3 linked regions of the Homo sapiens genome follow. The protein of the gene in region 1 interacts with the protein of each later gene in a pairwise test. Each region holds a gene or a part of one and is shown in the gene's direction. Other genes may lie near its edges. The genes, in order: CHAF1A, TRIB3 and H3-3A.

The links.
Region 2: the proteins of CHAF1A (region 1) and TRIB3 interact in binary tests that used the Homo sapiens proteins (3 or more experiments, as listed by UniProt).
Region 3: the proteins of CHAF1A (region 1) and H3-3A interact in binary tests that used the Homo sapiens proteins (3 or more experiments, as listed by UniProt).

Annotation. Positions count from the first base shown.
Region 1 is NC_000019.10:4,426,526-4,430,175, forward strand, and holds part of CHAF1A (chromatin assembly factor 1 subunit A), read left to right. Parts: intron 1-2,138; coding exon 2,139-2,365; intron 2,366-2,912; coding exon 2,913-3,081; intron 3,082-3,182; coding exon 3,183-3,263; intron 3,264-3,650. UniProt on the Homo sapiens protein: Acts as a component of the histone chaperone complex chromatin assembly factor 1 (CAF-1), which assembles histone octamers onto DNA during replication and repair.
Region 2 is NC_000020.11:390,705-394,354, forward strand, and holds part of TRIB3 (tribbles homolog 3), read left to right. Parts: intron 1-582; coding exon 583-875; intron 876-3,650. UniProt on the Homo sapiens protein: Inactive protein kinase which acts as a regulator of the integrated stress response (ISR), a process for adaptation to various stress. Inhibits the transcriptional activity of DDIT3/CHOP and is involved in DDIT3/CHOP-dependent cell death during ER stress.
Region 3 is NC_000001.11:226,065,666-226,069,217, forward strand, and holds part of H3-3A (histone H3.3), read left to right. Parts: coding exon 1-144; intron 145-3,552. UniProt on the Homo sapiens protein: Variant histone H3 which replaces conventional H3 in a wide range of nucleosomes in active genes. Constitutes the predominant form of histone H3 in non-dividing cells and is incorporated into chromatin independently of DNA synthesis.

The DNA of each region.
Region 1 (3,650 bases):
GTGCAGTGGCATGATCTCAGCTCACCACAACCTCTGCCTCCTGCGTTCAAATGATTCTCTTGCCTCAGCCTCCCGAGTAGCTGAGATTACAGGCATGTGCTGCCACGCCCAGCTAATTTTGTATTTTTAGTAGAGACGGGGTTTTTCCATGTTGGTCAGGCTTGTCTTGAACTACTGACCTCAGGTGATCCGCCTACCTCGGCCTCCCAAAGTGCTGGGATTACAGGTGTGAGCCACCACGCCCAGCTACAGTGTCTTTCATTATACTGAAATTTCTCCTTTTGGCCAGGTGCGGTGGCTTATGCCTGTAATCTCAGCATTTGGGGAGGCCAAGGCGGGTGAATCATCTGAGGTCAGGAGCTTGAGACCAGCCTGGCCAACAAGGTGTCTCTACTAAAAATACTAAAAATACAAAAATTAGCCGGGCGTGGTGGTAGGCGTCTGTAATCCCAGCTGCTCATGAGGCTGAGGCAGGAGAATCGCCCAACCCAGGAGGCAGAGGTTGCAGTGAGCCGAGATTGCACCACTGTACTCCAGGCTGCGCAATGAAGCGAGACTCCATCTCAGAAAAAAAAAAGAGGAGTTGTGATCTTTCAAAAAAAGACCCTGTCTTTTTTTTTTTTTTTTTTTTTTTTTTTTTTTGAGAAGGAGTCTTGCTCTGTTGCCCAGGCTAGAGTACAGTGGCGTGATCTGGGCTCACTGCAACCTCTGCCTCCCAGATCCAAACGATTCTCCTGCCTCAGCCTCCTGAGTAGCTGGGACTACAGGTGCCCACCACCATGCCAAGCTAATTTTTGTTTTGTTTTGTTTTGTTTTGTTTTTGAGATGGAGTCTTGCTCTATCCCCCAGGTTGGAGTGGTGCAGTGGCACGATCTCGGCTCACTGCAACCTCTGCCTCCCAGGTTCAAGCAATTCTCCTGCCTCAGGCCCAGGCTAGAGTACAGTGGCGTGATCTGGGCTCACTGCAACCTCTGCCTCCCAGATCCAAACGATTCTCCCGCCTCAGCCTCCTGAGTAGCTGGGACTACAGGTGCCCACCACCATGCCAAGCTAATTTTTGTTTTGTTTTGTTTTGTTTTTGAGATGGAGTCTTGCTCTATCCCCCAGGCTGGAGTGCAGTGGCACGATCTCAGCTCACTGCAACCTCTGCCTCCCAGGTTCAAGCAATTCTCCTGCCTCAGGCTCCCAAGTAGCTGGGACTACAGGTGCATGCCACCGTGCCCGGCTAATTTTTTGTATTTTAGTAGAGACCGGGTTTCACTGTGTTGCCCAGGCTGGTCTCGAACTCCTGAGCTCAGACAATCCACCCGCCTCGGCCTCCCAAAGCGCTACAATTACAGGCGTGAGCCACCGCGCCTGGCCTAATTTTTGTATTTTTAGTAGAGACGGGGTTTCACCATCTTGGCCAGGCTGGTCTCGAACTCCTGACCTCAGGTGATCCGCCCTCCTCAGCCTCCCAAAGTGGTGGGATTACAGGCATGAGCCACTGCCCCTGGCCTAATTTTTGTTTTTAGTAGAGATGGGGTTTCACCATGTTGGGCAGGCTGGTCTCGAACTCCTGACCTCAGGTGATCCGCCTTCCTCCGCCTCCCAAAATGGTGGGATTACAGGCATGAGCCACTGCCCCTGGCCTAATTTTTGTTTTTAGTAGAGATGGGGTTTCACCATGTTGGGCAGGCTGGTCTCGAACTCCTGACCTCAGGTGATCCGCCCTCCTCAGCCTCCCAAAGTGGTGGGATTACAGGCATGAGCCACTGCCCCCGGCCTTTTTTTTTTTTTTTTTTAAGTGAGGTTTGTTGAGATATAATTTACATCCAATAAAATAAACTCTTTTCAGGACATTTGTGTTGACAAATGACAGGGCCAGCTAACCATAATGAAGATAAACCCTATTTCCATCACTCAAAACAGCTCCCTTGTAGTCTGTCCCCCCACCGCCGGCCCTTGAGACTGCCAATCTGCCCTCTGCCCTGTAGCTCTGGAAACTCGGCTCTGTGGACCCACACAGTGCCTGGGCTTTTGAGTCTGTGCCTTGGCCTTAGCCTGGATGAATCCCACCAGCACCCTGCTGTGTGCGTCCATGGTGCCTCCTTTCTCCCATTGCTCGAAGACCCCATCGGGTCTCTTCTTGATTTCAGACCCTGGCCGGCTCCTGTGGGAAGTTTGCCCCCTTTGAAATTAAAGAGCACATGGTCCTGGCCCCTCGGCGTCGGACCGCTTTCCATCCAGACCTCTGCAGTCAGCTGGACCAGCTCCTCCAGCAGCAGAGCGGCGAGTTCTCCTTCTTGAAAGACCTCAAAGGCCGGCAGCCCCTGAGGTCCGGACCCACGCACGTTTCCACCCGGAATGCAGATATTTTTAACAGGTCAGAGCCTGAGGAGGTCGGCCTTCACCCACTAGTGATGCTGGAGGCCAGCATCCTGAACCCTGGGGTCCCCGGGGTGGGAGCTCTGGGTCCTTCTGTTGCTTGCTTCCTAGTGCCCTCGGGCCCTGGGCTTCGGTGCTGGCTCAGGCCTCTCTCCACCTGGCCTTCCTGTAAGCTCCTGAAGTCTTCCTCTCCCTGTCTTCCCAGCTCCTCGTGGAGGAATCTTATTTCCCTGCTGGTCTCCAGTGAAGGATACCCCCCAACACCTCGCTCTTGCAAATCTCATTCCACAGAACCTCCCTTGCTAAAAATGCTCTGGGGCTGCACCTGGGCAGCTGTCCTCCCTCTCACCCTGCAGGCTGCACCCTCCTCCATCTGTCCCTTCAGTCCATGTTCCTGACCTTTCTTTGGGGACAGGCAGTGCTGCTTTTTAACAAATGCCCATCTTTCTAGAATTGTTAGGCCAGCTTCACAGGGAGGTTCCTGGGAGGTTTGTGAGCAGGTCTGTAAGGCAGCGTGATCCTGAGCCTGGGGTTTTCCTTCTCAGTGATGTCGTCATCGTGGAGCGTGGGAAGGGCGACGGTGTTCCCGAGAGGAGGAAGTTTGGCAGGATGAAGCTCCTGCAGTTCTGTGAGAACCACCGGCCTGCCTACTGGGGTACCTGGAATAAGAAGACGGCACTCATCCGCGCGCGAGACCCCTGGGCCCAGGACACGGTGAGCTAGCCCCAGAGTGCCTCCGTCCCCGTACCTCCTCACTGTGCCCCTTTCCTCCAGCCCCAAAGACAGTTGTGAGTCCCATGTGTTTCTTTTCTCAGAAGCTCCTGGACTATGAGGTGGACAGTGATGAGGAGTGGGAAGAAGAGGAGCCTGGGGAGTCCCTGTCCCACAGTGAGGGGGTAAGGATGTGCCCCAGCTGTCTTCACTCACAGACGGCTTGTGTTTGAGTCTCTGTCCCACAGTGAGGGGCTAAGGATGCAGCCCAGCTGTGTTCACTCACTGACAGCTGGTGTTTGACCTGCTGTGTGGTCTGAAACCTGAACGCACCTCAACATCCAGACTTCCAGCTTCTCTCGAAAAATCTCATCTGGTGACACTCGCCCACGTGGCTGCTGGGGATGGGATCCCGTCCGCATCTGCACCGTGGCCCCACAGCCCCCTCTTGCCTCCTGCGGGCCTGCTGCACACCATTTCCTCCTGACTGCCCAGCTGCTGTGACCTAGTGGGCTTTCTGCCGATGCTCACCGTGTCTGTCGGGAGGCCATGCAAAGCAGATGTTCACAGCT
Region 2 (3,650 bases), on another chromosome or scaffold:
AGAGCACAGACAAAAGGCCGGGTGCAGTGGCTCACACCTGTAATCCCAGCCCTTTGGAAGGCTGAGGCGGGAGGATCACCTGAGGTCAGGAGTTCGAGACCAGCTTAGCCAACATGATGAAACCCCATCTCTACTAAAAATACAAAAATTAGCTAGGTGCGGTGGCACATGCCTGTAATCCCAGCTACACTGGGGGCTGAAGCGGGAGAATCACTTGAATCCAGGAGGCGGAGTTTGCAGTGAGCTGAGATTGCGCCAGTGTGCTCCAGCCTGGGTGACAGAGCGAGACTCCGTCTCAAAAAAAAAAAAAAAAAAAAAAAGCACAGACAGTGGAGTGCATACGTGCAAATCTCAGCCGTGCTGTTTGCTGGCTGTGTGGCCTCTCAGCTTCGTTAACCGTAAAATGGAGCAAGTCATCCTACCTTATAGGACCATGGTCAGGGCTGAGTGACTCGGTCAGTGAAGCGCTTGGTGCGATGCCTAGCACATGGTAGTGTCTAATAGGTCAGCTGTGACTGTTTGCAATGCCAGCCTCAGCTCCCGGGAGTCCCCAGCTGTGCTAACACCATGCTCTGCCCACAGGTGTACCCCGTCCAGGAAGCCCTGGCCGTGCTGGAGCCCTATGCGCGGCTGCCCCCGCACAAGCATGTGGCTCGGCCCACTGAGGTCCTGGCTGGTACCCAGCTCCTCTACGCCTTTTTCACTCGGACCCATGGGGACATGCACAGCCTGGTGCGAAGCCGCCACCGTATCCCTGAGCCTGAGGCTGCCGTGCTCTTCCGCCAGATGGCCACCGCCCTGGCGCACTGTCACCAGCACGGTCTGGTCCTGCGTGATCTCAAGCTGTGTCGCTTTGTCTTCGCTGACCGTGAGAGGTGAGTGTGGTCTCAGAGACCCCAGCCACAGACACACCCAGGGGGTGGGCCATGATGGAGAGAAACCGAGGCCCAGGAAGGCAAGGTAACTTAGGCAAGAAGTGGGAGAAACTGAAGTAACCAGCAGCCCCTGTTTAGTTCCCTGAGAAGAGTTGACTCAGGCCAGGTGCAGTGGCTCACGCCTTTAATCCCAGCACTTTGGGAGGCCGAGGTGGGTGAATCACTTGAAGTCAGGAGTTCGAGACCAGCCTGGCCAACATGGTGAAACTCCGTCTCTACTAAAAATACAAAAATTAGCCTAGTGTGGTGGCGCACACCTGTAATCCCAGCTACTCTGAAGGCTGAGGCAGGAGAACTGCTTGAACCTGGGAGGCGGAAGTTGCAGTGAGCCAAGATCACGCCACTGCACTCCAGCCTCGGCAACAGAGTGAGATTCCATCTCAAAAAAAAAAAAAAGAGTTGACTCAGTCCTCTTGGGAGCCCCTTGGGATTCTGGGATGGAGCACTGAGATGTGAAAGTCATAGTAGCCGACAGTGACGAAAGCATCGCCACATTATCTAACGTGGTCTTCCATCCTTACAAACACGAGGCAGGTACTGTTATTATCCCCATATGATCAAGGAAACTGAGGCCCAGAGAGCTCAAGTAACTTGCCCAAGATCCCATAGCAGAATAAATGGTAGAGCTGGGATTTGAACCTAGATCTGACTCCAGAGCCTGGGTCTTAATTCAATCTGAGCTTGAGAGGCAGGGGCCTGGCTGGGCTTACCAACTGACTTTGGGTGACCTAGTGTCTCTGAGCCTCAGTTTCTCCGTTGGTAAGGAAAAGGGCTGGATTGTTAGGGTGTTTTCAGGATTCCAAGACCACAGCCAAAATAGGGTCTGAGGTTCCCCACACGGGAACGTTTTCTGTGAAACTGAGAATTAGCACTTTTTGGTTAAAAGAATCTTCCTTCTCTAGGTTGGGATGCTAAGAATTTTTTTTTTTTTAATTGAGACAGAGTCTCACTCTGTCACCCAGGCTGGAATGCAATGGCGCGATCTTGGCTCACTGCAACCTCTGCTGCCTGGGTTCAAGTGATACGCCTGCCTCAGCCTCCCGAATAGCTGGGACTACAGGCATGCGCCACCATGCCTGGCTCATTTTTTCTATGTTTAGTAGAAACGGGGTTTTGCCATGTTGGCCAGGCTGGTCTTGAACTCTTGACCTTAGGTGATCCGCCTGCCTCGGCCTCCCAAAGTGCTGGGATTACAGGTGTGAGGTACTGCACCCAGCCTAGACGCTAAGAAAAATTTTTAAAAGATAATTCTGGGGAGAAGGGCAGAGAGACTCGCCTCCTGTTCCCTCTCCAGATTCCTGGGGGCAGTCAAGATGTGTCAGGGAGTGCACTAAGCTGCCAGTTACACAGGAGTTTTCTGTGGAGAAAGGAGTGTGACCCCATGGCATTTTAAAAAACTTTTTATCTTGAAATAATTTTAGACTTTTAGAAAACCTACAAAAATAGTTCAAAGAGTTTCTGCATATCCTTTAACCAGTGCTCTCCAATGTTAACACCTGACGTAGCTATGGTACAATTACCCAAACTATTAACTAAGCCACAGATTGATTCCCACTTCCCGAGTTTCCCACTAACACCCCTTGCTGTGCAGGATCCAGTGAGGATCCCAATTTAGTCATCAGTGGTTTCCTTGGTCTCTTCCAATCTGAGACAGTTCCTCAGTCTTTCCCTGTCTTTGAAGACCCATGACCTTGACACTTTTTTTTTTTTGAGACAGGGTCTCACTCTGTCACCCAGGCTGGAGTGCAGTGGTGTGATCACAGCTCACTGCAGCCTCAACCTCCCGGGCTCAAGTGATCCTCCCACCTCAGCCTCCTGAGTAGTTGGTTCTACAGGTGTGTGCCACCCCACCTGGCTAATTGAGATGGGGTCTTGCTATGTTGCCCAGGCTGGTCTCAGACTCCTGAGCTCAAGCAATCTGCCTGCCTCAGCCTCCCAAAATCCTGGGATTATAGGCGTGAGCCACTGCTCCTGGCCATAACCTTGAGACTTTTGAAGAGTACTGATCAGTTACTTTGTATGTCCCTCAATTTGGATTTGATTGATGTTTTCTCACAGTTAGATTGCAGTTATGTATTTTTGGCAAGAACAACACAGAATCGATAGGCCCCTCTCCACATCATATCAAGAGATACTTGAGCTGATAGTCATTCCTATGTCGTGACCTTGATCACTTGGTTAGGGCAGGACCTACCAGGTTTCTCTACTGTAAGGTCCTAATTTACCCTTTGTAATTGACAAATACCTTGGGGGAGGTAAGCTAGGCATATAAATATCCTGTTTTTCCTCAACTTTCACCCACTAATTTTAGCAGCCATCCATCTTGCCTATAGCAGTTATTATTGTGGTGCTTGCCTAAGTCTAATTTTCTTTTTCTTTTTTTTCTTTCTTTCTTTTTTTTTTTTTTTTGAGACAGAGTCTCGCTCTGTTGCCCAGGTTGGAGTGCAGTGGCACGATCTCGGCTCACTGCAACCTCCACCTCCCGGGTTCAAGTGATTCTCGTGCCTCAGCCTCTTGAGCAGCTGGGATTACAGGCACACACCACCACACTTGGCTAATTTTTGTATTTTTAGTAGAGATGGGGTTTTGCCATGTTGGCCAGGCTGGTCTCGAAATCCGCCTGCCTTGGCCTCCCAAAGTGCTGGGATTATAGGCATGGGCCGCTGCGCCCAGCCCCCAAGGCTGATTTTCTGTTAATATTTCCTTCTACATTTT
Region 3 (3,552 bases), on another chromosome or scaffold:
GTGGCGCTCCGTGAAATTAGACGTTATCAGAAGTCCACTGAACTTCTGATTCGCAAACTTCCCTTCCAGCGTCTGGTGCGAGAAATTGCTCAGGACTTTAAAACAGATCTGCGCTTCCAGAGCGCAGCTATCGGTGCTTTGCAGGTAAAATGGTGGGTGGGAAGACTCAGAGTTTGTATTCCTGTTGTGTACCAAGAACAGTTCCAAATTGTTGCATGTGCTTATATCATTTAATCACAAGCCTGTCAGGTAGTTGATATTGTTACTTCACTGTTGAGACTTCAGAAAGGTTAAATTGCTCAAGGTCATACACGTAGAAAATGGCAAAACCATAATTTGAACCTATTTGACTCCAAGGCTTAGTGCACATTCCATTATACCATTTAAAATTTTGAAACATTGCACTAAAAACAATATTTAAAGAAAATCCTCTGGTTTGGTTTATGGATGCTGCAGGACATTAAGAAGAACTTGAGACTAGAGGTCTATATTTGTAGTAACAATTTCAAACAACAGTGCCTAGAATAAAAGAAATGTCTCTTCAGGTCCTGAAGAAACATATAGGTAGAGAGAGCTTAATACCTAGGATGGGAATAGGCAGTATTAAAAAATTATGCATTAAGACGTAAAAGGAGCAGTGAGTGGAGGATAGGATTGGATTGGCAAGATTGGGGGAACGGTGCTTAAAGGTGATACTGGACGTGTAAAGGGGCCAGGATTTGCCTTGTGGTTTCCTAAAGGGGATTAGGGATTGCCACTTACATGTGGAGCATATTGAATTTAATCTTAATCTCTAGCATGTCAGGACTTAGAGAAATACTGTTCTAGAGATATTTATGTATTTGAGATATTTGTGGTTTAAGTTAAGACCAAAACTTGAAATTCCTACAAGATACTTGATAAAGGTATGTAGACGTCATTAACATCAGTCACTTAAGTAACCTATTTTATATTGTGTGGTTGGATTCTTTAGTTGCAAGTATCCCAGAATACAGTAAAGCTACCACCTCCATCAGAAGCATGCAGTTGGGGGTCGTTAAAAATGCTGATTGTTAGGCACCATTGCAGACCTGAATCATTCTGGGGGTGGGGAGGGGGCATCCAGAATCTAAGTACATTCCATTGGAGGATTTTCAAGGCTGCTGTTGCTGTGCTGGGCTTTTGCTTTATGTATGAGAAAGATAGGATAGGTGGATTCCACCCTGAAGTGTAATTGGTCGAGCTGTTTCTATGGTTAATCTAAACTTCATTTGATTGGTGAATTCCAGGAGTAGGCATCCATTAAATTCTCAGTGAGTTGCTGAAATTTCAACTACTAAAATCTTCCATGTTTTTACTTAAAACTTTATTTTCTGTTTTAATAGCCGATTATCTTCAGTTCTTATTTATTACTAAATACAGAAATGTTACTAAGATTCGTAAGCATTGGTACAAAGCTGCTAATATTTTCTAGTTAGAACTGTGCTTAAAGAACAATACTGTACTTGAAAAGTGTAGCGTTTTTAGCTTAAATGTCAATAATGTAGCCTTTTAAATTGAATTTACTAAACAATCTGGGTAAAAGACTCATCTTTCTAAAATTATTCACATGTAAACTTCCATTGTTACTATTACATATTTGTCATTAAGTGTGGTTGTATTGGTTTTAAGCAAAATGTTCACCTCTTCTGTCCACAGTTCTCTTAGTGTTAGATAGCTCTTTATTGGAAAGAGTGATCTTTGTTAAGCTTTTGTGTTTTCTGTTTGCTTTTTTATGCATATATTTTAGTTATCTTAAAAATACAGAGAGTGGGCCGGGCGCCGTGACTCACATCTGTAATCCCAACACTTTGGGAGGCTGAGGTGGGTAGATCACCTGAGGTCAGGAGTTCCAGACCAGCGTGGCCAACATGGTGTGAAACCCCTTCTCTACTAAAAATACAAAAAATTAGCTTGGCGTGGTGGCAGGCGCCTATAATCCCAGCTACTAGGGAGGCTGAGGCAGGAGAATTGCTTAAACCCGGAAAGCAGAGGTTGCAGTGAGCCGAGATGGCGCCATTGCACTCCAGCCTGGGCAACAAGAGCAAAACTCTTGTCTCAAAAAAAAAAAAAAGATAACAGAGGGAGAATTTGTTAATGGAATAGGATAATAGAAGATCGCAATTGAAGTAGAAATCCAAAGGTCCTTTGTTTTTGGCCTTAGAATTACACACTTTACAACTAAAGGATAGCAGGCAGTCCAGTGAGAATGGTAGAGGAGAAATTAGTCTCAGTTTGCCATAGATAATCAATAATTGACTTACTTAAAATATAGTCTTTGCTTTTAATGTCTGAGAACTTGAACTCAAATATTCTTGTGTTAAGTGGACAGTGTTGCTTTGAAATGGTAAAGAGGCAGACGTTGAATATACTCAAAATGTCCTAAACTAATACTTTCTTGTAGTTCTTTTTTTTCTTTGCCATTAAATCAAAATTAATTCATTAGGTCATAAATTAGTGTGGCAGTCTTTAATTCCCATTACAGCCTTAATGTTTTAAGGGACTTTGGGTTACTTGTAATAAAATTGGAAATGTATGGGTCATGGTCAGATCCTCTCGTAGGAGTTCAGTCTCCTCTCAGAGCTGACCAGACACAATCCTTATAAACTAGTAGCCAGGTTCTAAGACAGCAGTGAGAGCCCCAGCTACCACATGCCACATCTGAGTGGTTCTAAGTGATACCACTCTGAAAGGCCACCAGAACCATGGTGCCTGATGGTTTGCTTGCATAGTAGCTTGTACCACATTTTACAAAAGCATTCTAGCTTTCTGTAATCCCGAGGTGCCAGGTTAAGCAAAATTAAACTGTTTTCTTTCCTGATATAATAGCTGATATGCGTTGTGAGCCCCTAAGGAGGCTACAATATGCCATTTTTTCCAGGATTTCTACCCACTTCTAGAATATCTTAAGAACGAATCTCGGAATATTAAGGACTTTTGCTTTTAATACCTGTGGAATAGGTAAGATGCGAGGGACTACTTGCATAGAATAGAAACATTTTTTAAAACTAGCAAATATTGAAAATCTACTTGAGGACAAGGCATTTGGAGTATTAAATGAGATTTCTGTTATCAAGTAACTTAAGGGCACCAAAAAATGGCTGATAATGCAAGGTCATTGTGAGTGCCAAGGAACTAGGAGTTCAGGGTTGCCTGCACTGGCAACAGGAGCAAGAGACAAGTATGCGATTTTCTCCTTCATGGAATAGTCTTGAGCTGGGCCTTAAAGGGTAGATAAGTAAGACTTAGTTGTTAATAACAAATGCTGGAGAAACACACGTGAAAATAGTTCAATTTGAATGAAGGAAACTTGTAGAAGAGTAGTGATAGGGCTAAAAAGGATGAAGCTAGAAATGTGAAAGTACCTTTTTTTTTTTTTTTTGAGACGAGTCACACTCTGTCACCTAGGCTGGAGTGCAGTGGTGCAATCTCGGCTTACTGCAGCCTCCGCCTCCCGGGTTCAAGCAATTCTCCTGTCTCAGCCTCCCAAGTAGCTGGGACTACAGGCACATGCCACCACGCCCAGCTACTTTT